Homo sapiens: one gene and its partners. The protein of the gene in region 3 interacts with the protein of the main gene of each other region in a biochemical or structural test. Each region holds a gene or a part of one and is shown on either strand. Other genes may lie near its edges.

What was found.
Region 1: the proteins of PARVA (region 3) and FERMT1 form a complex in vitro, tested with the Homo sapiens proteins (one study listed by BioGRID).
Region 2: the proteins of PARVA (region 3) and FERMT2 form a complex in vitro, tested with the Homo sapiens proteins (one study listed by BioGRID).
Region 4: the proteins of PARVA (region 3) and FERMT3 form a complex in vitro, tested with the Homo sapiens proteins (one study listed by BioGRID).

What each region holds. Positions count from the first base shown.
Region 1 is NC_000020.11:6,120,015-6,126,971, forward strand, and holds the start of FERMT1 (fermitin family homolog 1), read right to left. Parts: upstream 3,017-6,957; 5' UTR 2,760-3,016; intron 1-2,759. UniProt on the Homo sapiens protein: Involved in cell adhesion. Contributes to integrin activation. When coexpressed with talin, potentiates activation of ITGA2B. Required for normal keratinocyte proliferation.
Region 2 is NC_000014.9:52,941,040-52,948,063, forward strand, and holds part of FERMT2 (fermitin family homolog 2), read right to left. Parts: intron 1-7,024. UniProt on the Homo sapiens protein: Scaffolding protein that enhances integrin activation mediated by TLN1 and/or TLN2, but activates integrins only weakly by itself. Binds to membranes enriched in phosphoinositides.
Region 3 is NC_000011.10:12,372,654-12,380,572, reverse strand, and holds the start of PARVA (alpha-parvin), read right to left. Parts: upstream 3,003-7,919; 5' UTR 2,926-3,002; coding exon 2,790-2,925; intron 1-2,789. UniProt on the Homo sapiens protein: Plays a role in sarcomere organization and in smooth muscle cell contraction. Required for normal development of the embryonic cardiovascular system, and for normal septation of the heart outflow tract.
Region 4 is NC_000011.10:64,209,716-64,216,739, forward strand, and holds part of FERMT3 (fermitin family homolog 3 short isoform), read left to right. Parts: intron 1-895; coding exon 896-1,129; intron 1,130-1,336; coding exon 1,337-1,456; intron 1,457-1,559; coding exon 1,560-1,728; intron 1,729-1,929; coding exon 1,930-2,032; intron 2,033-7,024. UniProt on the Homo sapiens protein: Plays a central role in cell adhesion in hematopoietic cells. Acts by activating the integrin beta-1-3 (ITGB1, ITGB2 and ITGB3). Required for integrin-mediated platelet adhesion and leukocyte adhesion to endothelial cells.

The DNA of each region.
Region 1 (6,957 bases), on a different chromosome or scaffold from region 3:
AACATATTTTGTTGTATGCAAATTATACTTCAATAAAGTTGATGTTTAAAAAGGATGCCATTAAAGCCTCTTATCTTTAATATCTTTAATATATGTATATTATTACATTCCTCCTACAAAAATGTATATCTTCCCATAATAAAGCTCAAAAAATAAAAAAAAGCAAAATAATTCCTATTTCAGTCATTATAATATATAGTTTTACCTTAAATACATATAGATACAGGTCATTAATAATTATTGCCATGTATTCGATTTACTTATTGTTCTATGTCATATAAAAATTGATTATAAATGCACCAATTAAAAATTTGGATACATCTTTGGCAAAAGATTTAAAAACAGGAGTAACAGATATAAAAAGCTCACTCTTCAAAGTACAGATAGGGATGTGAATTTCAAACCCATCGTTTTCCCCTCATGGGAGAAGCTAGCAGGAAAGAACGTTCACAACTGAAATGTTTCAGGGGGTAACTGGAACACTGGAATCCAAATTGGCAGAACTGAAACAAAACTTGAGATGTCAGTTCTCTCTTACTTTTAAACAGAAAGAAATAATGCTACTGCTCCTGGCTGTTTTAAACATTTAAAGTAAAAATTATTTAAATGATAATGAGTCTTTTTCACTTTACTATGTAAAGCCAGCTTATGAGAAATTCATGTTTTCATAAGGCCTATTTTTAAGAAACATCAATGCACTCAAACTCCTAAGAAAGGGCTTCTCTGAGGGTGTACACAAATCCCCCAGGGATCCTATTAAAATGCAGATTCTATTCAGCAGGTCTAGGGAGGGGCCATACATTTCTTAACAGGCTCCAGATGTTGCTGGTCTGTGGGTATACTCAGTTCTTCCCTTCAACCTATTTAGATCAATATTAAACCAGGGATGATGGTAATATCCGAGGAACATTACTTTTAATAATAATTAAACAACCAGTGTCATATCTGTTCTGCATGTTCATTCGAAACGACTCATTTGTAAGCATAAGAGAATCTCAAAATACGCTACACAGATAAATTGAATACTGCAAATCTGAACAGATTTAGGACAGATTTTATGGGTGAGGATGAAATTCAAGAGTTCAGAAGTAGCTCCTTATGTTTTTGTTTTGTTTTTGTTTTTTTTGAGATGGAGTCTTGCTCTGTCACCCAGGCTGGAGTGCAGTGGCATGATCTTAGCTCACTGCAACCTCTGCCTCCCGGGTTCAAGCAATTCTCTGCCTCAGCCTCCCAAGTAGCTGAGATTACAGGCGTGTGCCACCACGCCCGGTTAATTTTTGTATTTTTAGTAGAGACAGGGTTTCACCATGCTGGCCAGGCTGGTCTTGAACTCCTGATCTCGTGATCCACCTGCCTTGGCCTCCCAAAGTGCTGGCATTACAGGCGTGGGCCACCACGCCCAGCCGTTCCTTATGTTTCTATAGTCAGAAGCATGCAACGATGCAATGCATCTCCTCCCCATGCACAGAGATCCACACAGAACCCTCTGCATGAGGAGTGCCACTCAGTGACTGCATTAGGCCTAACTGCTTGCCTCTGTCATCATCAGCTTCAGGTATCATTTATTACCTACTGACTGTATGATGTGCTCTGTGTTAACTCCTGTCTTCTGTTATCCCTTTTTCATCCTCTCAGCAATCTCATTTAGAAATGAGGAAACTCAGCCTCAGAGAGATGAAGCAAGTTGCCTGAGGTCACACAGCAAGTTAGATGCTGGAGCCCAGGTGGAAATCCAGGTCTGCCTTTCTATTTCAAACTCTTATTCACCACACTGGGAAACCACTTTGATAATGTTGCAATGCCAAAATGAAAGAAAACTCCTCAAACTACGTGAACTAAATTCTCAGTAGCCTTTACTAAGCATTTCTATCAACACAAATCTTGCGCAGTGAGGAGACAAAAGATGCCCCTTCATCGTCAAACTCATAACTTGGCATTGAACTGTTCGACTTTAAGATCCTTACAATTTCTTAAATGCTATAATTGTGAAGTCTAGTTATTTAAAATGTTTTGTATATAAAGAAAATAACTTTTAAAGGTGATTCCTTACTGCTTATTTCACTGGGCAATCTGATATAAGGTCTTTTCCTAACTTGGGTGATCAAAACACTACTCATTCAGGCAATAGATGCTGATTCCCCTTACAACAAAATGCAGGCTAAAATTAGCCAAGCTGGTTTTCCTGCATTCCTTTCCTATCTTTCTGTGCCTTCATTTTTGAGTGAACGTCTAGTCTGCAGCAAGCTGTTACTTGTCAAGGATAGCAGCAAACTTCAGCCGGGAAAACGCATCTAAGGAGACCAAAACAAGAAGCAAAGTTACTGGCAGAGTGCTGAAAAGCCCTTCGCAGACAGTCAAAGAAACGAAAGCATGGAGGGATGGAGAGCAGGAAGGAGGAAAGATGAGGGGGAAACAGTCCCCGACCCTTCCCCTGGAATATCTGAAGGTGCTTGGTGTTCGAAGGCCACCCGACCTGTCTTTTGCCAGCTCTGCAGGATCCTGGGGCGGATGTTGGGTGGATAAAGCATGCCCCTTACTCCCATTAAGGCAGCACCTGCGGCTGAACTGAAAGTTTATTTTGCGGCCAGATGCGTAGGGCCGGAGAAGGTGGTCACATCCAGACGAAATTATTTTCAATCAACAGCTATTTAAGTACAAGAGGCTGCAGAAAGAAAGGGGCTAAGGGGGCTCAGGAGCCACTGGTGCCCATGAAAGCCTCCCAACCTCTAGCTCCCCAGCCCTAGCTCCGGAGCACCCACCTCCTTTCCAGGAGCCCGTAGCGTCCAGCCTCGCAGTCGCGCACGTGGAGAGCTGCGTCCCTACAAACTACCCCGGGCCGAGCCGAGGAGCGGGCGCTGGCGAAGTGGGGAGCGGGGGGCGCCCAGTGGCGGCGGCTGCTCAGCTAAGGCTGCGGCAGGTGAGGGCTGGAGCCAGGGCGAGCAGGCGAAGCTGCCTCGGGACCTCCCACGGAGGCTCGGTGCCTGCCCCCAGCCTGGCGCGGCGTGCCCGGTGCACTGCACGGCCCCAGCGGCCCGGCTGAGGGCAGCGCGCAGCGTGGCAGGCGAGGGCACGCCCAGCCCCGGGCCTGCTAGGTCTCGCTCCCGCGGAGAGGAGGCGCAGTCTGCAGATTTTTAAGGGCAAAGGGTGGCCGAAGGGCTGCTCGGCGGAGAGAAGGCGGCGAGAACCCGGGGCGCACGCTCAGTATCTGCAGCTCCTCTTGCGATGTCTCATCCTGACGCTTTAAGGCCGCCTCCAGTTTCCCTGTTCCCCCAGGCCCGCCGGGGACTAGCCCAGATGATTAAAGCCGCGCCACTTCCCCTCCTTTCAGGCATACCCATCACTCACACCCCGGGGTGCGTCCAGGCCCAGGAGACTCCAGCCTCCCGCCTAGAACAGCTGCCTCCCTCAGAAAGAGCCCCGGAGCACTTGTGGTCAGGGAGGTGAAGGCAACGACAAAACGATTCGTCTCTGAGTAAGAGGGTGGTGTCAGTCTCCAGAAGGCTGAGGCTCCCGACCAGGGGAGACTCCAGGAGACCCAAGGGCAGGCTGCATGCGGAAGTCTGGGCCACACCTGGTATGGCTCACCTCAGGATCACCACCGGTCCCGCCAGTCGCCTTCCTGTTGGATTTATTTTCAAAGAGGGCTGGGGCCACCCAGGAAGGGTGGGTGACCTGGGCAGTTTACACAACCTCTCCAAGCCTCCTTTGTTCATTTAATCACATTTGTTGAGTGCTTACTGCTCTACAGGCCTCCCAATGGGCCTGGGCTCAGAGAATACAGTGGTTAATAAAACAGACATGGAAATGACAGTTTCCTCATCTGTGAAATAGGTACAGAGATAGAATGCGTGCTCTTCCACGGAGGGATTTCATGCAATATAGTACAGGCTTTAGCGATTTGCATTAAAAGGCTTGTGAACACTTAAATTTTAATAAAGAAGTTATAAAATTTAGAAGTTGAATCTGTTTTCGCTTAAACATTACCATATTCAGGAATTATTATGGGTTTGAAAGTACATTTAATTTAAAAAGGTTAGTTGAACATTGTTGGCAAATATAGGATATTATAATTGAAATAAAATCATTAAAAACTTGAAACAGAATGTCTTCACTTGGTAGCGTTTGTCAACGATGGGAAGGGTCATCTGGTCCCACTTCCCTACCTCTTAACATCATGAAACCCTGCTTATGGCCCATTAGAACTTAGACTGTGGTCAGTGCGCGCGCGCGCGCGCGCACAAACACACACACACACACACACACACACACACACACACATATATTTTTTTGAGATGGAGTCTTGTTCTGTCCCCAGGCAGGAGTGCAGTGGCACGATCTTGGCTCACTGCTGCACCCTCCGCCTCCCGGGTTCAAGTGATTCTCCTGCCTCAGTCTCCCGAGCAGCTGGGACTACAATTTTTGTATTTTTAGTAGAGACCAGGTTTCATGATGTTGGCCAGGATGGTCTTGATCTCTTGACCTTGTGATCTACCTGCCTCGGCCTCCCAAAGTGTTAAGATTACAGGTGTGATCCACCGTGCCCAGCCTGTGGTCAAGATTTTATGTGTGACCTTGAATTATGGCTCTATCTATTCATACCAATATGGTTTTTCTCTTTTCAATTGAAAATATCTGCATTGTGCTAAAGAATTCGACTGGTTTTAAGCGTTCTTCTTGGCCTAGGTTAATTTTTAAACTTGTAATTTTATGTAGTGACTTGTGTGTATATAAATGTGTATCATATATATACACACCCATACATATACACAATATATATAGATAAGAGCACAAATCGTGAATGTATAGCTGATGAGTTTTCGCAAACTGAACACACCTGTATACAGAGTATATAAAGACACTAGCGTATAAAGAGTGCCCAGTTGAAGAAACAGGACATCACCAGTCCTCGGAAGCCCGTTAGTGACCCCTTTTAGTTATTCCTTTCAGTTATGATCACTGCCGCTGCCTGCCCCTACCCCCGACCCCAGGCCCAGGATAACCATTATCTTATCTTCTAACTCCTCAGAAGGGTTTTGCCTGTCTTTGTACTTTATATAAATGGAATCAGACCATGTGCACTATTTTGTGTCTGGCTTCTTGTGTTCAACATTATGTTTGTGAGTTTTATCCATATTATGTGTCCTAGGCTTTTTTTTTTTTTTTTTTTTTTGAGAAAGGGTCTTGCTCTCCCCCAGGTCAGAGTGCAGTGGCATGATCATGGCTCACTGCAGCCTTGATGTCTCAGGCTCCCAAGCTGGGACTACAGGTGTGAACCACCGTGCCTGGCTAATTTTTAAATTTAGCTGCCTGAGCTGGTCTTGAACTCCTGGGCTCAAGCCATCCTCCCATCTTAGCCTCCTAAATTGTTGGGATTGCAGGTGTGAGTCACCATGGCCGGCTGTCCTAGGCTTTTAATTTAACTTTATGTTTTACTTATTACACGGTTACTGTCGTTTGTGTGACACAGGTCCAACCCATCCCCCAAGGTCCTGGGTTAGAAGTGGGTTAAAAAGTGTATTCTGAACTTCAAAATTTTGTACATATATATTAAAAAAAGCACACCCTTTGCCCCCTTAAAAAACAAGCAGAATCAATTCACTGAGTCTGTTATTTAATTAATTCATACATATTAATCAGCAATGGATTATTTATTTGCTAGTCACTGTATTACTGTGAGCTAGACATCGTAATATATGTTGAAAATACTCAGATTAACTGGGCACGCACTTTGTCTTCAGATGATAGGAGGGATGCTAAGGAATACAGAAGAATGTGTCTACTTCTGCCAGGTGTTTGGAGTGGCAGGGAATATGAGAAAAGGCTTCAGAAAGGAGGTGATTTTTGAGATGGAATTTGAAACATTGGATAAGAGCTTCATAGTTTCTTATAATAACCTGAGGTTTCTAGAGAACTGTTTTAAGGTATTAATATATTTTTTTTAGTTAGCAGATAGTTGCGCTTCAGGTAGCAGAAGGGTGGAAGATAAAGAGAAGCTCTATTTCTTGACTTTGAAATCTTATACATTCAAGTTGCAAATATTGAAAAAAAAATCTGTTGTCAATTACCCATACACTGATAAACTCACCTTTGAACTAGTACCTTCAAAAAGGTAAATCAACTGGGTGTGGTGGTTCAGGCCTGTAATCTCAACACCTAGGAGGCCAAGACAGTAGGATTGCTCGAGCCCAGGAGTTTAAGACCAGCTCAGGCGGCATAAGGAGACCCACATCTCCACCAAAAAACAAAAAATCATAAAAATTATGCGATGATCTGTGCAGCAAACCACCATGGCACATGTTTACTACGTAACAAACCTGCACATGTACCCCTGAACTTAAAATAAAAGTTGAAGAAAAAAATTTTTAAAATAATAGAAATTAGCTGGGTGTGGTGGTATGTGCCTGTGATCCTAGCTACTTGGGAGGCTGAGGTGGGAGGATCGCTTGAGCCTGGGAGATCCAGGCTGCAGTAAGCCATGATTGCACCACTGCACTCTAACCTGGGTGACAGAGCAAGACCCTGTCTCAGTTAAAAAAAAAAAAAAAAAAAAGTAAGTCATGTCATGTCTGGGGTATGGGTAGATTAGACTGAATGAGAGATGTGGCCATATTCCGTATTCACTGAACACAAAAGGGAAATAAATGAGTAGAGAACTTTGAAAGTCTCTGCTGCTTTAACTTGTTAAACACAAATGATTTTTTCCTCTAGCACCTTTTTGCTAAAAATTCTATAGAGTTAATTTAGGTAGAATAAGAAAGCTGCTTGAAGGAGAAAAGAAGTGGATTTTTTTTTCCTGATTGATGATTTTGATAAATATTTACCCAATATAAAGTTCTCTATTAAGTTTTCAGCTTATAAACCTGCTAGAAGTCTGATGACTTCAAAACGGCAACAGACACCTAAAATATATTTTTATTTGCATTGAGTCCTTGGCACATACAAAATGGCAGCTGTGTT
Region 2 (7,024 bases), on a different chromosome or scaffold from region 3:
ATTCATCATCTCCTAAAACTGGGAGTAACCCAAATGCCCTTCAATTGCTAAATGGACAAACTGTGAAATAATCCATTCAATGGACTACTACTCAGTGATAAAAAACTATTGATACAAACACATGAACGAAGCTAACATGTATTATGCTAAGTGAAAGAAACCAGATTCAAAGAGCTAGAACTGAATGGTTCCATTTGCAGGCCATTCTAGAAAAGGCAAATTATCACTGGTTTTTAGGATCTGGGTTTGAGGCGATGAGACGGTTACAAAGGAAACTTTTGGGAGTACTGTAAAAGTTTTCTATCTTGACTGTGGTAGTTTTACATGTCAAAACTCAGAATATTATACTAAGAAGGATAAATTTTACTATATGTCAATCAGACCTCAATGAGCCTGACACTAAGAAAAAAAATTAACAGGAAAAACAATTATATAGTAATTATGCAACTAATTTGTTAAAGAATGAATTATAACGAATATGAATTTGTAACCACAAACCCAAGTGCAGAAGTCACACTTCTTAATTACAAAATAAAAGAATTATTTAAAAATACACTTTCAGATGTATTTGTTTACTTCTCACTGGGCATATATACCAATTTTAAATGTTCCATGGCATAAGCATTAATTTGTCAGTAAAATAATTATTTAAATAGGAATACTGCATACATTAGCTTTTTTCTGAAACTACTTTCATTAGTTTCTAAATAGGCCCAATGTTTTCATGTGCCTTTGCTATAAATGAACTAAAAACACTGCTCTTATAGAATATATTAAGTAGAGAATTAATTTACTACTGATGCTTTCATGGTTTTAGATTTTTCAAATACCTGGAATACCATCATCCACTTATTGGTCCCCTGCATTTCAGAAATCTTATTAAAATGGTACTTAAATAGCTCTCTTACACTGCAGAGGCAGGTGTGTGTTTGGAAGTTGGCGGGAAAGTAAAATGACAGCTATTTTTTCTTGTTGTTTAGAGGGTGGGAACAGAAAGCAATCCTAAACTAAGCTTTTTTTGAGGAGTGCAATTCCCCACCAGTAAAGCTGGAACTTATTAAATATACTAGATTATATTTTAACCTACTTTTCCTTTTTTTCCTTCCTACTTTCATATACTCAGAGACTCAATGCCACAGAGAAGTATCCACTCTCATTTGCATAACACAAATAGTTTATATAAAGTATATATACATGTAGTATCAATATATATGTATTATCTCATTTAATTCTCACCAAAACCTGTGAGAAAATGTTTTTCTTTTTCTTTTTTTTTTTTTTGAGATGGAGTCTTGCTCTGTCACCCAGGCTGGAGTGCAGTGGCGCGATCCCGGCTCACTGCAAGCTCCCCCTTCTGGGTTCACACCATTCTCCAGCCTCAGCCTCCCGAGTAGCTGCAACTACAGGCGCCCACCACCACGCCCAGCTAATTTTTTGTATTTTCAGTAGAGACGGGGTTTCATCGTGTTAGCCAGGATGGTCTTGATCTCCTGACCTCGTGAGCCACCTGCCTCGGCCTCCCAAAGTGCTAGGATTACAGGCGTGAGCCACCCCGCCCGCCCCAAGAAAATTTTTTTCAATTTCTATTTTATAGAAGTCAAAACCCACTCAGGTTGGATTCATTGTCCAAAGGTCATACTAACCAGTAAAGTAGCAGACAGAGCCAGAAGTTGAATCCAGATCTTCTGACACACTAGGCAACCTGTTATTTCTTAATAATCTGTGCCTCCATCAGCACCTACTACAGTCTGAGAACAGCTGACATTATGGGAAACCTACATCCAATGATGTCTAAAACTATTATTAACAGCTTATTTAATAGTAAGCTAAGAAGTAAACTAAATTTTAAAAATAAAGTATGTGAAAAAGAACCTATAAAAATATCACTCTTGGCCAGGCGTGGTGGCTGATGCCTGTAATCCCAGCACCTTGGGAGGCCGAGGTGGGCGGATCGCCTAAGGTCAGGAGTTCAAGACCAGCCTCGCCAACATGGTGAAATCCCATCTCTATTAAAAATACAAAAATTAGCGTGGTGGCGGGTGCCTGTAATCCCAGCTACTTGGGAGGCTGAGGCAGGAGAATCACTTGAACTTGGGAGGCGGAGGTTGCAGTGGACTGAAATCGTGCCACTGCACTCCAGCCTGGGTGACAAGAGCAAAACTCTGTCTCAAAAGAAAAAAAAATCACTCTGAAGTGAAATTTGCACTGATACTAAGAACCTTATTTTAAAAAGGTTAAACAATGTCTTAAAAGACCAAGGCTGAGGAACTGTTCTACAGGGTGGCCATAAAGTTTACAAACAGATACTATCATTTTACATGTATCTTAATGTAATGTCAATAAGCCATTTATTATATAATCTCCTGTAGCTCCACACTTGGTGGCTGTTCTGTATATCAAAGGAGATTAAGAGGCCCTTTCAACTAAATGCGAAATGAGATTCTGGATGGGAAAAAAACAAAGGCCATTATTGGGACAACTGGCAAATTTTGAAAATGGATGCATATTAGATGACAGAAGTGAATCAATGTTGAATTTCCTGAATGTGATCACTATACTGTAATTATGCAAGAGAAGTTTCTTGTTCTTAGGTGATACATATTTAAATATTTAGGAATCAAAGGTTATGAGTAAGTCTGAAACTTCATCCAACTGCTCCCCAACATGTGTATGTTTGTGTGTATAGAAAATTCAAATGGCAAAATACTAACTGGTGTCTAGATGAAGATTACGCAGTGTTCACTCAATTACTCTTGAACTTAGATGTTTGAAACTTTTAAAAATTAAGAGCCAAAGATAACAGGTAAAATTTTACATATTTTCTTTCCATTCTCTTCAATAGCGAGCGATTAGACATTTCCAACAAGGCCTTTTATAAGTAATTGAATAAACATATTTTTAGCATCTCTATAAATAAGTTAACTCTAGTTGGAAACAAACAGTTTTTTACTTTAAAAAACTGGGTATAAAACATAGCAGCAAAACAAAAACAAAAGGCAGCAAATAGCACATACTCTAAGGAATAGCTCATACTTTATTAGCTGTCACAGGATTACAGTAAAACTTGAGTACTGTCCTCCACTTTTAAAGAACTTAAAATTTGCTAAGAAACTGATACAATTTAATTCACTTCCTATGGATCATGAACAGTGTTTTAAACACTGAGTAAACTTACTATCAGATTTAACCAAAACTTAATTCACTTTAATAAGATTTTAACATTGTTTCCTACTCCACCCCCAAGATTTAAAAAAATTTCTTATAATGTTAATGTATTTCACTATGAATGCAATGAGGATGCATCATGTAGGCATTAATTTCCATGAATTCAGTTGTGAGCCCTCAAGGGGAAAAACTAAGGATTTCAACTGCATAGGCACCATTCCACCAAATAAGCACACACCTTCCCCAGGGAGCACTAAGCCAGGGTATAAGGGAGCTGTCCAGTTACGTATGCCTCTTTCCCAGTGTGCATCTTGCCAAGCTCTAATCCTAGTGTTTAAAGTATTTTTTTGTGTAACGAAGCCCCTCATGTAAGCCAGTTTCTTCATCTGGTGCTCAATTAATGAAACTTATTTTTGGAGTTCCTAGAGGAAAAACTAGCTATTTTCCACTTCTGTGAGATGCAATGAACGTATACCATACTTAATGATCACGTTAAGGGATTTTTAGTGGTAACTTTATTAAAATCTATTTCTTTTTTTGGTCACATGTGCTAAGTTCACAATCTAACTTGATCCTAACATGCAACTCCAACATAAATGAACTTTTTTCATTATTATATGGCAAGAACATGACACACTTTTAAAGCAAGGACTTCTTTCTAAAGGCCACGTTCAGAAATATAATCCTCAGATTTTCTTTTTCTTTTTTTTTTGGAGACAGAGTCTTGCTCTGTTGCCCAGGAATGGAGTGCTGGGGTGTAATCACAGCTCACTGCAGCTGCAAACTCCCAGCTTCAGGCAATCCTCCTGTCTCAGCCTCCCGAGTAGCTGGGACTACAGGTGCGTGCCATCACGCCTGGCTAATTTTTGTATTTTCTGTTTTTCTGTAGAAACGGGATTTCACCATGTTGCCCGGCTGGTCTCAAACTCCTAGCTCAAGCAAACAACTTCTGAGCCTCGGCCTCCCAAAGTGCTAGGATTACAGGCGTAAGTTACCGCACCCAGCCAATCCTCAATTGTTCTATGTTTTTTTGTTGTTGTTTTTTTTTTGTGGGTTGGGGGCGGGGGGACGGAATCTCGCTCATCACCCAGGCTGGAGTGCAGTGGTGTGATCTCAGCTCATTGCAACATCCGCCTCCCAGGTTCAAGCGATTCTCCTGGCTCAGCCTGAGTAGCTGGGATTACAGGCGCCCGCTACCATGCCTGGCTAATTTTTTTTTTGTAATTTTGGTAGAGACGGGGATTTCACCATGTTGGCCAGGCTGGTCTAGAACTCCTGACCTCAGGTGATCCACCTGCCTCAGACTCCCAAGGTGCTAGTATTACAGGCGTGAGCCACCACTCCCGGCCTAATCCTCAATCTTTCTAAAGCAACTTCATATGTTTCTTTTTAGTTACTCCTGAGTCTTCCAATTTGCATTTTTTTCCCTTGTAGATTGTGTGACTTGATCTAACCCAACTTCTACATTCTCTCTACTCATAGAATCAGAGCTAGAGGAAACTTAGAGATCACCTATTTTTTCCTCTCTGCTCACAGAGCTGGCTGGAGATTTCCATTCAGTGAGCTCCAGATTATAATAAATTCCTTATTCTCCGTTTAAAATGAATTTTTATAGAAAGGTGGAAATTTAATTGTACACATAAGTTTTAAAAAGACATTTTAAAAAGTGATACTAAAACTCAGTGAACAGATCCACTTGGTATTTAGCGTCTGCCAGGCTGGAGTGCAGTGGCACTATCTCGGCTCATTGCAACCTCCGCCTCCTGGGTTCGAGCGATTCTCCTGTCTCAGCCTCCCGAGTAGCTGGGACTACAGGTGCCCATCACCATACCCGGCTAATTTTTGCATTTTTAGTAGAGGCGGGGTTTCACCATATTGGCCAGGCTGGTCTCGAGCTCCTAACCTTCTGATCTGCCCGCCTTGGCCTCCCAAAGTGCTGGGATTAGAGGCATGAGCCACCGTGCCCAGCCAAGGATTTAATACTTCTCAATGACCTCCAGAGGAATCCCATAAAATTGGGCCTCTTCTTGACAAAATTTATTTTTGAAGACAATTTTATTTTGATGTCTTGTTTTTATAATCCTTATCCCTGATATTTCATATTTAAAATTTTTCTTTTAAAAAACACTATACACGTTTGAAATTTGTCTTTGATTAAAAAAAAAAAAACAGGCATGGCAGCTCACATCTGTAATCCCAACACTTTGGGAGGCCAAGGTGGAAGGACTGCTTGAGGCCAGGAGTTCAAGACCAGCCTGGGCAACAAAGCAAGACCCATCTCTACGAAAAATTTTAAAAGTCAGCAAGATGTGGTGGTGCGTGCCTGTAGTTCCAGCTACTCAGGAAGCTAAGGCAAGAGGATTACTTGAGCCCAGAAGTTTGAGGATGCAAAGAGCCATGAACACACACTCACTCCAGCCTGGGTGACAGTGCAAGACCTTGCCTCAAACCAAACCAAACAGTACTAAATTTTCACAATTCTTTTTTTTTTTGAGGCGGAGTCTTGCTCTGTCGCTTAGGCTGGGTGGTGTGATTTTGGCTCACTGCAACCTCCGCCTCCCAGGTTCAAGTGATTCTCCTGCCTCAGCCTCCCAAGCAGCTGAGATTCCAGGCACATGCCACCACATCCAGCTAATTTTTGTATTTTTAGTAGAGATGGGGTTTCTCCATGTTGGTCAGGCTGGTCTCGAAGTCCTGACCTCAGGTGATCCACCTGCCTCAGCCTCCCTGCCTGCTGGGATTACAGATGTGAGCCACCGTACCCAACCTAAACTGGATTTTAGGGTGTTTTTCACTTTCTGGATGAAGTATAAACACTGAGGGGATCAATTATTTATGAAGTATCAGCCTAGACTAAGTCACAAATGCAAAAACTTTGTCACATTACGATATAATTCCCCAAAGCCCACTTCATGACATATGCTTTTGCTTTCTTTTAAAAGATTAATAGCAAATGACAAATGTGTTTTATACTGAGATTTAAAAGAGACCTAGGATGGGCGTGGTGGCTCACGTCTGCAATCTCAACACTTTGGGAGGCCAAGGCAGGCGGATGACGAGGTTAGGAGATCAAGACCATCCCGGTTAACACGGTGAAACCCCGTCTCTACTAAAAACACAAATAATTAGCCAGGCATGGTGGCGGGTGTCTGTAGTCCCAGCTACTCGGGAGGCTGAGGCAGGAGAATGGCGTGAACCCAGGAGGCGGAGCTTGCAGTGAGCCGGGATCGCGCTACTGCACTCCAGTCTGGGCGACAGAGTGAGACTCCCGTCTCAAAAAGTAAAAAATAAATAAATAAATAAATAAATGAGACTTTTCAGATCTTTGAATTAAAGTCAAAATTCTAAAAATTGTGTTTTAATGGCCTTAAGCAAAGTGTACACGTTATTTATAATAAAAGTCTAACTAAACACAAAGATATTACTGACACATATTAAGGAAACATTATTTACACTTATGTCGTGCTTAATTAAAATGCCGCACTCTGGGATGAACCCTAGCTTCAAGATGAACCTGACACACAAGGGCCAAACCATAAAATTGTGTCATGACTTCTTTTGTTACAGACCTCTTTGAGAAATTAAAGTGAAGAAGCCTCTTCCTAGAAACTTCCACATGTGCACACACACAATTTTAATACAATGTTGAGGGAATAGGTCATCCTGAGATCTATCGACTTCAGGGAAATAATTGCTGCTACTGAACATTATCTGGGAAAATCACCTTAAAATATAATGCTTTTGGTATTCATATACCGTCCAACAGATTAAGAAGGATATCAGACAGTCTGGAGTTTGAAAATGTAAGTGAATGCTCTGGTGTCTTCTGTTCATAACTGCTTCAAGGCCACAGTAGCCC
Region 3 (7,919 bases):
TATCTATTGCAGATCCCTTGCTCTGATGGCTTCCCACTGGGTTCAGCACCAGTAGGTGATGCACGGGCAAGAAGACAGAGAACATGCAGAATGTGCATTTATTGTGCCACTCTCTCCTTGCTCTGTCTGCATATTTCGGACAGTAGCTGCATCCCTCTATGACTATAGTTCCAGTCCAGCAGCCCCTCGTCCATAACCCCAGCTTGTAATAGGTTCCAATTTGCTTCCCTTGTCCCTCAGGCCTCGGAGTGATTAAGAGCTTCCTCCTGTTGCTAGCCCCTAGGGACCTCAGCATCCCTTCTTAGTTCCCTTAACCCTGCCCACAGCTCTGTCAATAGCCCTTTCACTAAATTATTTTCAAAATCTCAACTAAATTGGCCTTCTTTTTCCTGCAGGGACCCTGTCTGAAACTAAAGAGACAGGATGCAAAAGTCCTTAAAATTATGTCTGTGAGGAATAGAGGATGTTGGGCCTGGTGGAGAGAAGACTCTAGAAAGCAGGATAGCCTACTTCAGCAAGGTAGTAATAAAAGGCCACCCCAGACTCATTCTCTGGCTCTACCAACAGTGATAGGTACAGAGAGATAAATTTCTACAGAGTAGGTAAAGATGGTTATCCTGGTAGGTCATGAGCTTCAATATTTCTCAGTTGCCCCATCTTAAACTGGATGAGACTATGTCAGGAATGCTGCAAGGAAGAAGTTAGAAACATGGTCTAGAAAAGAGCTTCCCAAGCCAGGGTTTCATGATTTGCCACCAACTGTACACTACTCGATGGGTTACCAAAATAACCAATGTGGGGAAACTTTTGTATGTTTTTGCTGCTTCTCGTTTCAATCTAGGGAATAGAAGTCTAGTTCTTCATCAAGTCTGATAATCCTCAGCGCTGAAGATGTTTTTATACTTTAAGATGACTTACAAACATGAAAATTTCACACAGCATCACAGCTTTCAAAAGGTTATTTCTAATTCATGGAGCAATCTATTAAAAACATTTTTTAGGGGGGAAGAGAAGTTGATTAATGGTTACAAATATACCATTTGATATAAGAAGACCTAGTGTTAGATTGGTAAACTAACTATATTTTACAATAACCTCTTGTATATTTCAAAATATCTAGAATTCCAGTGGTCTAGCATAGAGAAAAGACAAATCTTTAACGTGATGGATATCCCAAGTACAGTGATTTTGTCCGAGGCATGTGAACCAGAGCAACTCCATCTTGAATGGGGCCAGGTAAAACAAGGCTGAGTGAGACCTACTGGGCTGCATTCCCAGAAGGTTAAGGCATTCTAACTTACAGGATGAGATAGGATGTGGGCACAAGATACAGGTCATAAAGACCTTGCTGATAAAACAGGTCGCAGTAAAGAAGTCGGCTAAAACCCACCAAAACCAAAATGGCGACAAGAGTGACCTCTGGTCGTCCTCACTGATACACTCCCAGCAGCGCCAGGACAGTTTACACATGCCACGGCAACGTCCGGAAGTTACCCTATATGGTCTAAAAAGAGGAGACATGAATAATCCACCCCTTGTTTAGCATACCATCAAGAAATAACCATAAAAATGGGCAACCAGCAGCCCCAGGCTGCTCTGTCTATGGAGTGGCCATTCTTTTATTCCTCTACTTTCTTAATAAACTTGCTTTCACTTTACTGTGTGGACTCACCCTGAATTCTTTCTTGCGTGAGATCCAAGAACCCTCTCTTGGGGTCTGGACTGGGACCCCTTTCCTGTGCAATTTGATCTTTACAAATTATATGAATGTATTACATTATCACATGTGCCCCAGAACTATGTACATCATGCATCAACTAAAAAATGTTTAAAACAAAAATGTTTAACTCAGCAACTTCTATCTACACACCAGTCACCACAGTGCTTCTTGAGAACTGCCACCTCGTTTTCAAACCAAAAACCAGGACGCAAAATCTGTGCATGGGAAAAAAAAATATTTTACATGCAAACTACCCTGAAAAAAAAAAAAAAAAAAAAGAATAAGGTCGCCTCAATTCACTCTGGTGGGGAAAAAACAAAGGTTTTTACGAAAGCCCTGAATGCCTGAGTTCACAGCAGGCCCATGACGAAGTTTGTGTCTCACGCAGGTTTTCTCCTTTGGTGGGAGTTTATTGTGTATTACACCGAGGGCACGCTAGGTTTGCCAGTTTTTCGCTCATTCATTCAACAAACACTCGATGTCCACCTACTCCATTAACAGAGCCCTTCTCAGCCCTCGGGATGGACAAAAGATCCCGAAGAGGCCAAAGCCACGACGCCGCTGCCAGAGGACGTCAGCAGGTCCAGGAAACGACCTGATTTTAAGGACCAATGAAGGCAACGAGTAAGAGCGACGGCGCCCAGGAAAGCTGCAGCGGAAACTTGGGAAATGCCAGCCTTCGGGCGCAGAGGGCGGGGCAGGGCCTACTGGATCGCACTGTCTGCGGGCTGGGGCCCCGCCTGGGCTCCGGTCCCGCCGCCTCCGGCCGCCAAGCGGCGCCCGCCCACGGCCCGGCGGGGGCGTTGGCCTGGTCCCCGGCCCAGGAGGGCAGCGCCCGGGCGACCGCGAGCGGGCGGGGTGGCCTCGATGGCCCGCGAGCCCCGGGCTCAGTGTGGGGTGCGCGTCGCTCCTGCCCGACGTACCCGGGAAGCGCGCGCACGCATCGCCGCGCGCCCCACCGCGCCGGGCACCCGCGGCGCGCTCCCGCCCGGTCCCAGTGCCCCGGCCCCTCGGCCCCTACGGCACCCCCGGCTCCTACCGCCCGCCCGGCCGGCCTGGCCGCACTCACCCTCCTTGGCTTTCTTCCTCCGGGCCAGGGTCCCTCCGAGTTTCCCCAAGAAGGAATCATCTTTCTTGCGGGACGGGGGCGACTTGGGAGTGGGAGACTTGGGGACAGAAGGCGACTTCTGCGGGGAGGTGGCCATGGCGCGGCGCAGGCTGCCGCGGGCCGGTCGGGACGCGGAGCTGGCGCTGGGCGGACGCAGCGGGCGGCGGCGGGACTGAGGCTGCGGCTTTCCAAACGGAAGCGGAATTATTCCAAGCATTTGAGGCAGCTCACGCTCGCCTTTCCCTTCCCTCGCTCCCTCCCTCGCTCCCTCCCTCGCGCCGCCCTCTGCCCTGGAAGGAGCTGCGCTCCCGGGGCCGCGCCTTGCGCCCCTGGGTTGCCCCAAGCAGGGAGGATGCCCCAAAACTGCCCCTTGCAGGACAGGAGGACGTGTGTGCCCAGGTTGGGAGCGGTCGAGCCGGAAAGCTTCATTTACCCAGGCTCTGTCCCCACCACACAGCCTGGCGCAAAACACATCTGAGAACCAACCCAACCCTGCTACTCTCCCGGGGTCTTCCAGCCGGCGGCTGGTGAGCTCGCTCTGCCCCAGCACTACTGCCTGTGGGGTTATCAGGCCCACGTCTTGCGCCCACAAGACTGCAGCTCCTGGAAGAAATTATTGCAGTGAACCAAAATGTGTCCAGGCCCCACCAAAGTGGGCAGAACCAATCACTCCTGAACCTATCCATGACCGTCAACCTCCTCGTCTCTACTCCCATCCAAGACTGAGAAGCTTGGAGTGCACAAGGGTAAAGCCGAGGCTTCTTATTCTTGTAAGACATCCGTGTTTCCAGCAGCTTATACAAAGGAAGATCCCACGTGGTGGTGGAAACATGAATGGGAAAAGCACAACCATGAGCTCCTACAGGACTTCCCGCAAAATTTATCCTGCCTAAATAAAAGCAAGAGAGTGACAACCAGACTCATTTGAGATAACAGGGGAGTCATACAAAGCACAGTGTTTGAAGGACTCATACTGGAAATGATTAAAAGGCACGTGTTATTGAGCTTACCCATCTCAAGTTCTCACTCTGGCTCTTTGTCCTTCTGTCTGTCTCTCACACACAGACTCACAGCACCTTGGCAACTGTGTTTCCTCCTTGTGGCCCCTTCTAGGCCACAGCTGATTGAACCTGGGTGAACACCTAATCCAAAGGGCGCTACTGCTTTACTGAAGAGCAGACGATCAGCTGGCCCCAGTTAAGACTGCACTAAGCTGGAGAGACTGTTGTCAGAAGTTGTGCTCGTGACTGATGATCATTCGCAATCAAAACTAGGGTGGCTGTTTCTAGCCACGTGCATGCTGAGGAGTAGGGAAACCAAAGAATGGAGCAAAGAAGTGTGCTCAAGAAGCCACGTGGTCTGAGTAATGGAAACCGTGGGGAGTAGCTGCTTGGACCTTGAATCTTTTCCCAGACCCCACTTGCACTTCCTGCCAGGGCCAGCTGTGCTTCTTCCCAGGAGATGTTACTCAGCCTTTTATTAACCCATCCACAGTTCCTTAAACTAAATAAAGTGACAAGCAACAGTTTCTGAGTAGAACTAAAATTTAACAAAAAGATAGTCAACAGATTCTCAACACCGTATAGGTTCATTTTATCTTAAGAGTCTTAATTTTACCTTTTTTAAAAAAAAAAAAAATCTGCTTTAGTTGGTGCCTCTTACTTAACAGCAGAAAAGTCATGATGTCTGCTAGCCTGGGAAGATTACTACAACTCCTCCTAGACAATAAATCTTAAAGGGATGGTGAGAAGCCAAAATATAAGTGTGTTTTGATTACATCATTAATCATTTTTGTTCAGGATATCAGATATAGGACATCTCCAAAAGCGTATCTCCAGCCCCGAGAGCTCTTGTCAGGGAATTAAGAGACACGTAGCTCAATAGCGGTGTGATCTTGGAAAGGTTTACTCCCTTTTCTGAGTCTCCATTTCCTCATCTACAAAATGAAATGGTTGGCACAGAACAGTGGTTTTCAAACTCGATCGTGCATCACAGTCGCTTAGAAGTTTGTTGCATTCACAGGCCCCATCTCCAGAAATTCTGATTCAGTCGATCTCAGGTGAAACCAAGGGATAGGTGTTTTTTAAACAGACTACATCAGGTGATTTCGATGTATTAATAGCTGATTCACACCCTGATGTCTTGCCATTTAGGGCTACTTTCAGCTCTTAACAGTCTGTGGTTCTTTATTCTTTCAAAAATTGCTAATATCTGTATGCAAGGCTTAGTCCTAAATGTGCCATAATCAAAATTACCCATGGAGATTCCTTCAGTTGCCCATGCATGCTTTTGCATATATAATACTCCTCAGTAATTGTTATGTTCGTTAAACTTGGAAAACCACTGAGCAAGGCTAAAAGGAGGAGTAAAGTCTTGATTGTTGAATGCTAGCTCCCAGAAAATATCAGCAAAATAAGCTGTGGAAGAAGGCAAAGCTGAATTTTTTGTACACCATGATAAGGAGAGCCCTGCCTTGGCAGAGTCTCAGTAGCATCTTGGAGTAGGGGAAGGGATATTTATAAGGTTTTGGAATCTTGATGAAGACAGGCCTTCCAGTGGGATGGTGCTTGATTAAGTTTGACTAAGGATCATGATATAATAGATAAGGACTGGTAGACCCTAGGCAAAGCTTTCCAAGAGTCTTGGAGAGTAAATAGTCTTTTTAATGCTATCTATTGAAAAGTCTAATGGGTTTATGTTCATTTCAATGAGATTTGGTGGGGAGTTCTTGAAAAGAACAAGAAAGTTATTCATAGCTTTTTATCTTCCTGGGCAAGAAATTTTTGGAAGACAGGGGAACGATAAAGTCCTGTTAATGTATGCAGTAACCTGCATTGGTGGGAATGGTTGCCAGGGTCTCAATATTATGCTGATACCTTGTTATTCAAGCATTTCTACTGGTAAGATCATTATCAATCTTTCTGGAAAGGCCAGTGGGAATGGGTGGTGAATTATAAATCAGTGCTACTCACAGTGTAGTCTGCAAACCAGTATTGATCTGGATACCATTATTAGCTGCCAAGACCAGCTTGGTCGGGGAGACCCTAACCCAGCGGCGCTAGAGGAATTAAAGACACACACACAGAAATATAGAGGTGTGAAGTGGGAAATCAGGGGTCTCACAGTCTTCAGAGCTGAAAGCCTCGAAAAGAGATTTACCTACGTATTTATTAACAGCAAGCCAGCCAGTCATTAGCATTGTTTCTATAGATATTAGATTAACTAAAAGTATCCCTTATGGGAAACAAAGGGATAGGCCGAAATAAAGGGATGGGTTGGGCTAGTTATCTGCAGCAGAAGCATGTCCTTAAGGCACAGATCGCTCATGCTATTGTTTGTGGTTTAAGAACGCCTTTAAGTGGTTTTCCACCCTGGGCGGGCCAAGTGTTCCTTGCCCTCATTCCGGTAAACCCACAACCTTCCAGCGTGGGCGTTATGGCCATCATGAACATGTCACAGTGCTGCAGAGATTTTGTTTATGGCCAGTTCTGGGGCCAGTTTATGGCCAGATTTTGGGGGGCCTGTTCCCAACAATTAGCCAATGACATAAATGTAGAAATTGAGAGTTTTTAGAAACTTTTATAGCAATTTAACAACACTTTATGTCTGTTTAATCTAACAATAATCAGAAGCTTATATTTTGAATATCTTTTCATTCTATTTTTCTAGTAATTTTTTATTTTTATTTACAAAAATATTGCTCTATGATGAATTGGTCCTTTAGCAGATTAAGAAGCACTGTTCTACATTGCTCGTGTTTACTTAGAGAGTTCATCTACTCTCATTTGATATAATGCTTTTAGAATCCTTAAGAATGTGAATTGATCTGGTTTTTGTTTAGAAGAGTAAATGAGATAATCTGTGGGAAAGCACCATCTACAGGGCCTGGCACTGAAGTAGGCTGAATCTAAATCTTACTTAGAGACATGCTGCATGCTATTCTTTGATAGGATGGGAAGACCTTGTACCAGCTCCCTCCACTCTAAATTGGTATTTACAATTATGTCCCCACTGAACAGCACCTCCTCTCATGCTCGGTCATTGTTTTCATCTTACCCAAGGGATTTGATTCTAAGGACAGATCATCAATTAAATGTGTGATACGTAAGACTCTGCTGAATCTCTAGGCTGCCTCTTCTTGAAATTGGGGCCTAGACAAATGCACTGGAAGAGAATAAACTCAGGTTCCAATCTTAGCTTAGCAGCCAGGTGATCTTGGGTAAATCTCTTCCCTTTCTGCATTTATTTTTCCCATCATCTATAAAATGAAGCCAAGGCAGTACCTACTAAAGCCAACCATCATACATACCTTATGATCAACAATTTCAATTATAGGTTATACCCAACAAAAATGAGTACATGTGTACACACAGAGATAGGCTCTAGAAAGTTCACAGCAGCACCATTCAGCTGCCTGTTAACAGTTGAATTGATTGTGATAACCACAGCAATGAGAGTGAACAATTTGCAACTACAAGCAGCAACAGGAATGGATCTTACAATATAATGTTGAGCGAAGGAAATCAGACACAAAAGAGCACATACTGTATAATTGTATTCAAGTAAAGTTCACAAACAGGCAAAACTACTCTATAATGTTAGAAGTCAGGATATTGATTAGCCTTGGAAGGTGTAGTGACTAGAATGGAGTGGGTGGCATGAGGAAAACCACTGAAGCTGCTAATGTTCTGTTTCCTGATCTGGATACTGGTTACGTGGATATATTCACTTTTAAAAATCAATGAGACATACACATAGTACTTTCAGCAGATTTTCTGTATGTATTTTATACTTCAATAAAAATCTACAGCTGGGCATGGTGGCTCATGCCTGTAATCCCAGCACTTTGGGAGGCTGAGCCGGGTGGATTGCTTGAGTTTGGAATTCAAGGCCAGCCTGGACAACATGGCAAAAACCTAGCCTGGACAACATGGCAAAAACCTGTCTCTACAAAAAATACAAAAATTAGCCAGGTATGATGGCATGTGCCTGTAGTCCCGGCTATTCAGGAGGCTGAGGTGTAAGGATGGCTTGAGCCAAGGAGGCAAAGGCTGCAGTGAGCCGAGATTGTGCCATTGCACTCCAGTCTGG
Region 4 (7,024 bases), about 52 Mb from region 3:
GGCTGGCTGAGGTGGGTGGGATGCAGTGGGAATCAGAAAACTCACCGGGAGGACCTGGGAGGAACTCAGGAAACAGGGCTTTGCAAACTCTCAAGGGCTGTGTGCCCAGAGCAGCTTTCCGGCAGCCTTTTTCCTATGCTCTCTCCCACCTGTTCATGCTCCTGGAGGGAGGAGGCGGGGAGACCTGTGCCTTCCATTACTGTAACTCCAGTTCCCAGCTGGCTGACAAGGGACAGACGCACATCTCTAATTCAATGCTCACTCATGGATCGTCATGTGCGTGCACAAGTTTGCTGCAAACCCTGCAGCTACCACATGGGAGGCCTTGTTCCGTGTCCCAGTTTGTAAGATCGTTATTGTATCTTACAGGGAAACTGAGGCCCAGTGAGGTTAAGTGGCTTGTCCAAGGTCACACAGCTAATAGCTAAAAATATTGAGTGCTCACTGCTCCAGGCCAGGCACAGGTCCAGGCCCTGAGGACATACAACGGTGAGACAGACGTAGTCTCTGCCTCCAGGAGCTCCCCAGAATGCAAGACAGAGGCTGTTAAACCGTGGATTATGGGAGGACAGAGGGGGCGTCATGTGGAGGGAGCCCAGTGGGCTGGAATGCAAGAGATGGGGCGCTAAGATTGGGGCACTCAGATGCTGGGTTGGAGAGCTCCCCTGGGAAGCGATATAGAAGCCAAGCCTAGAAGGCCAAATCAGGGGCTGCCTGCAGAGAGCCCTGCTGCTGTTACCATGGGGTAGACCCCAGGCCCGCCCAGGCTGCCCCACTCTTGGCTTAGGCAGGGCAGGGGAGTGGTCGCCCCAGGCTTCTGAATCCTGGGGTTGTGCTGGGTGTTGGGGGCACCAGGGAGGAAGGTTGGACCCAGATGTGCCCCCGTGCCCCACAGATCGCAAGCAGGACTGGTCAGACCATGCTATTTGGTGGGAACAGAAGAGGCAGTGGCTGCTGCAGACCCACTGGACACTGGACAAGTACGGGATCCTGGCCGACGCACGCCTCTTCTTTGGGCCCCAGCACCGGCCCGTCATCCTTCGGTTGCCCAACCGCCGCGCACTGCGCCTCCGTGCCAGCTTCTCCCAGCCCCTCTTCCAGGCTGTGGCTGCCATCTGCCGCCTCCTCAGTAAGTTGCCCGGCTGATTCCCCTGGCCCACGAGGGTGATGCAAAGAGGCAGGTTCCCCCGTTTCCAGGCCCAGCTCTGTTGACGCTGTCCTTGCTGTCTGGGTTGCCACCCTGCCTGCAGGGCTGTGACCCGCCCCAAGCACCCATGGGTGAGGTGGGGAGGCTGCAGCAGGACCTAGTCCCCGCTGAGACCCTAGCTCCCCTCAGGCATCCGGCACCCCGAGGAGCTGTCCCTGCTCCGGGCTCCTGAGAAGAAGGAGAAGAAGAAGAAAGAGAAGGAGCCAGAGGAAGAGCTCTATGACTTGAGCAAGGTTGTCTTGGCTGGGGGTGAGTGCAAGTGGGGGTGGGCCTGGGGGGTTGGGGGCAGGGGCCGGCCCGTGAGTCCCAGCCCTGGGGGACAGGCCTGGTTGACTCCCAACCTGCACTCCAGGCGTGGCACCTGCACTGTTCCGGGGGATGCCAGCTCACTTCTCGGACAGCGCCCAGACTGAGGCCTGCTACCACATGCTGAGCCGGCCCCAGCCGCCACCCGACCCCCTCCTGCTCCAGCGTCTGCCACGGCCCAGCTCCCTGTCAGACAAGACCCAGCTCCACAGCAGGTGCACCCAGGAGCCACGCCCCCTGTGTCAGGGCTCCCCCACCCAGGATCCACCCCCTGTCCCGTGTCTGTGCCCACCCCAGATCCACACTTCGTTTCCAGGCCTTTTCTCTGTGTGTGCTTGTCCCCCCAGCCCAGCCCCCCTCCCCACCCCACGGCCGTACCTGGCGCAGCCCTGACTGCTGCTTCTGCCGCGGCCCAGGTGGCTGGACTCGTCGCGGTGTCTCATGCAGCAGGGCATCAAGGCCGGGGACGCACTCTGGCTGCGCTTCAAGTACTACAGCTTCTTCGATTTGGATCCCAAGGTGGGTCGGGGCAGGGAGAAAGCGGGCCTCAGGTCCATGAGATGTGGAGACCTAGGGCCTGGGGTATGGGCTCTGGGATGTTAGTGACTTGTAGTGGCCTGTCCGTCTGCCCGTTTGTCCATCCACACCTTTGTTTACTGACCCCACAAACACCCACTGAAACTCATCTACTCACCTCAGCATCAGGCCAGGTCCTGGGCCCCGGGCAGATGCTGAAGCGGATGAAGACCAGTAAGTCTCAGTGCCTGTTTCCCAGGGAGCTGTCAGGGAGGAAGCTAAGACCCACAGATCCTCATAGACAGTGTGTGTGTGGGTGCCCCTGAGAAGTCTGGGGCTCAGGTGGGAGAGGCCCAAGCCTGGGAGCTCTGGGAAGGCTTCCTGGAGGGGGCACCATTAGGGACTGCAGGACCTGGGGGTGGGTGAGGAAGGAAGCTTTGCAGGGTGGCCCCTCTGTGCCCTGTTCACTCTTCCTCCCTTCCTCCATTGGCAACCAACATGCTCCAGGCAAAATGCTCCATGCAATGTGCTTCGCGCACATCTCAAAAACTTCCCAGAAGTCCACAGGTTGCTCTTTCTACCTGTAGGCCCCACCTCTCTGCCCCCTTTCTCTGCAAAACATCGTAGTTGTCTGAACGCTTGCTCCGCAGAATCCCACTTCTTGCTTCCAAGCTTTCTCTGGGTGCTGTTCGACTCCCTCTCACTCCTTGGCCATGGCTATTCTATATATTTTGACACCATCCACACGTGAGAAGTGCACCTGCTGAGGTGGCCACGTCTCCAGGCTATCTGTTCCCTGGCCATGTCCCACCCGCTTCTTACTTGACCACTTACTTGCAGCATAGACACCACCCCGACCACTCCTCCAGAATATCTTCCTCCTGAAGCCTCCTGTACACTTGCTTGGGGGGTGGCCTCTCCCCAAGCCACTCTGCCAGGCTCTGTGATGTTCCCTCCTCCTCTCCATGGCCTCTCGGTGTTGGTGAGCCCCAGGCTCTGCCCCAGGCTCTGCTCTGGGCCTCTGCTCTCTCCTCTCCTTCTCTCAGTCATCTCCAGTCTTGTGGATTTCAATACCATCTCCACACTCTCTCCCAGCTGATCATCTCCAGCTCAGATGTCTCTCTCCTAAGCTTTATTTATTTATATATTTATTTATTTTTATTTTTTGAGACACAGTCTTGCTCTGTTGTCCAGACTGGAGGGCAGTAGTGTTATCCCGGCTAACTGCAGCCTGGACCTCCCAGGGTCATGTGATCCTTAAGCCTCAGCTCCCCAAGTAGCTGGGACGATAGGCGTGTACTATACCTGGCTAATTTTTTTTTTTTTTTTGACATGGAGTCTTGCTCTGTTGCCCAAGCTAGAGTGCAGTGGTGCAATCTCGGCTCACTGCAACCTCTTCCTCCTGGGTTCAAGCAATTCTCCTGGGATTACAGGTGTGGGCCTGGCTAATTTTTGTATTTTTTTAGTAGAGATGGAGTTTCACCATATTGGTCAGGCTGGTCTCGAACTCCTGACCTCAGGTGATCCACCTGCCTCAGCCTCCCAAAGTGCTGGGGTTATAGGAGTGTATTTTTTTAGTAGAGATGGAGTTTCACCATATTGGTCAGGCTGGTCTCGAACTCCTGACCTCAGGTGATCCACCCGCCTCAGCCTCCCAAATTGCTGGGGTAATAGGAGTGTATTTTTTTAGTAGAGATGGAGTTTCACCATATTGGTCAGGCTGGTCTCGAACTCCTGACCTCAGGTGATCCACCCGCCTCAGCCTCCCAAAGTGCTGGGGTTATAGGAGCGAGCCACTGCGCCTGGCCTAATTTTTTTTTTTTTTTTTTTGAGATGGAGTCTTGCTCTTGTTGCCCAGGCTGGAGTGCAATGACGTGATCTCAGGTCATCACAACCTCCGCCTCCTGGGTTCAAGCAGTTCTCCTGCCTCAGCCTCCCGAGTAGCTGGGATTACAGGCGTTGAGCCACCATGCCCAGCTAATTTTGTATTTTTAGTAGAGATGGACGGGGTTTCTCCATGTTGGTCAGACTGGTCTCGAACTCCTGACCTCAGGTGATTTGCCCACTTTGGCCTCCCAAAGTGCTGGGATTACAGGCGTGAGCCACGGCGTCGGGCCAGCTGTGCCTTTTTATTCTAGTGTTTTCTTCTCTATGACATATTTCCACTTCTTTGTTTTGCCATTTCACACATTATCTATTGACTTTGTAAGAAGGTTTCACTGTCTTACATTCTCTTCCCTGCCCACACAATACACACATTTCCTTGCCTCTTTCTAAGTGAGTAGTGTCTGTAGTCTTTGGTTAAAACAATGTGATATGGCTGTAAATAGTAACACATATAAATAGTGTTCCTAGTTAAGCCACAGAGTAACTATGATTATTTTTTCCCTTTTTGCTCAAATGGTTTTGAAGTTCATAATTGCCTTTTTTTTTTTTTTTTTTGAGATGAGTTTTGCTCTTGTTGCCCAGGCTGGAGTACAATGGCACAATCTCAGCTCACTGCAACCTCCACCTCGCGGATTCAAGCGATCTCCTGCTTCAGCCTCCCAAGTAGCTGGGACTGCAGGCACGCGCCACCATGCCCAGCTAACTGTATTTATTTATCTATTTTTGTTGTTGAGATGGAGTCTCGCTCTTGTTGCCCAGGCTAGAGTGCAATGGTGTGATCTTGGCTCACTGCAACCTCCGCCTCCCGGATTCAAGCGATTCTCCTGCCTCAGCCTCCCTAGTAGCTGGGATTACAGGCGCCCACCACCACGCCTGGCTAATTTTTTGTATTTTTAGTAGAGATGGGGTTTCACCATGTTGGTCAGGCTGGTCTCAAACTCCTGCCCTCAGGCGATCCACCTGCCTCAACCTCCCAATATGCTGGGATTACAGGCGTGAGCCACCATGCCTGGCCTACACTTTTCTTTCTTATTTTTCGGTTCTTTTTCTTTCTGTGTCCTACTCTCCGGAGACCTCTTCAACTTATCTTCTAAAATATCTATTGAATTTTTAATTTCTGTAACTATATTTTTAAGTTCCAAGAGCTCTTGTTTTTTGAGTGTTCTTTTATAGGGTTTTTTTTTTTTTGAGAGGGAGTTTCATTCTTGTTGCCCAGGCTGGAGTGCAATGGCGTGATCTCGGCCCACTGCAACCTCTGCCTCCTGGGTTCACGCGATTCTCCTGCCTCAGCCTCCCACATAGCTGGGATTACAGATGCCCACCGCCACCATGCCCAGCTAATTTCTTCTTGTATTTTGAGTAGAGATGGGATTTCACCATGTTGGCCAAGCTGGTCTCGAACTCCTGACCTCAGGTGATCCACCTGCCTTGGCCTCCCAAAGTGCTGGGATTACAGGCATGAGCCACCACGCCCGGCTCAGCTTATTTTTAACAAATGTGTATGGTTGTGCAACCATCACCACAATCCAGTTTTAGAACATTTCCACTGCCCCAGACAAGCACTGATTGCACGATGCCCATTTGCAGTCATTCCTCCTCCCACACCCCGACCACCACTGATCTGCTTTCCATGTGGCTTTAATTTACATTTCCCTGATGACTAATAAAGTTGAGTCCCTTTTCATAAGGCTATTAGCCATCTGGATATCCTGCTTTGTGAGGTTTCTGTTCAAACATTTTGACAATTGTCATATTGAGTCGTTTGTCTTTTTCTTATTGATTTGTAGGAGTTCTTTATATATTCTGGATATGAGCACTTTGCCAGATAAATACATTGTGAATATATTTTCCCCCTCTGTGCTTTGCCTTTTAATTGTCTGAATGGTTTCTTTTCATAAACAGCAGCTCTTTATTTTAATAGAACCAAATTTATATTTTTATCTTTCTTTTTTTATTTTTAGAGATGGGGTCTCGCTCTGTCACCCAGACTAGAGTGCAGTGGTGCGATCATAGCTCACTGCAACCTTGAACTCCTGGGCTCAAGCAATCTTCCTGCCTTAGCTTCCTGAGTGGCTGGGGCTACAGGCATGTGCCACAAGCCTGGCTAATTCTTTAAAAATTGTTTAGAGATGGAGTTTTGCTACGTTGCCCAGATTGGGTCTCAAGTTATCCTCCCGCTTCGGCTTCCTGAGAAGTTGGGATTTTTTTTTTTTTTTTAGACGGAGTCTCACTCTGTCACACTCAGGCTGGAGTGCAGTGGTACGATCTCGGCTTACTGCAACCTCCGCCTCCCGGGTTCAAGAGATTCCCCTGCCTCAGCCTCCTGAGTAGCTGGGATTATAGGCATCTGCCACCACACCCAACTAATTTTTGTATTTTTAGTAAAGACAGGATTTCACTATGTTGGTCAGGCTGGTCTCACACTCCTGACCTCAAATGATCCGCCCGCCTCGGCCTCCCAAAGTGCTAGGATTACACGCGTGAGCCACTGCGCCCAGTTACATTCCTTTAAAAAAAGAATATTCTGGTCTTGATTTATGAGTGCAGTGCTTTAGCTCTGTAAGGATTTTTTTTTTTTTTTTTGAGATGGAGTCTTCTTCTGTCACCCAGGCTGGAGTGCAATGGCAAGATCTCGGCTCACTGCAACCTCTGCCCCCCTGGTTCAAGCCATTCTCCTGCCTCAGCCTTCCGAGCAGCTGGGATTACAGGCATGCACCACCACGCCTGGCCTAATTATTTTTGTATTTTTAGTAGAGACGGGGTTTCACCACATTGGCCAGGCTGGTCTCAAACTCCTGACCTCGTGATCTGCCCGCTTCAGCCTCCCAAAGTGCTGGGATTACAGGCGTGAGCCACCGGGCCCAGCCTCTATAAGGATTTTTTCGCCGGGCGCGGTGGCTCACGCCTGTAATCCCAGCACTTTGGGAGGCCAAGGAGGGCGGACCATGAGGTCAGGAGATCGAGACCATCCTGGCTAACACGGTGAAACCCTGTCTCTACTAAAAATACAAAAAATTAGCCGGGCGTGGTGGTGGGCGCCTGTAGTCCCAGCTACTTGGGAGGCTGAGGCAAGAGAATGGCGTGAACCTGGGAGGCGGAGCTTGCAGT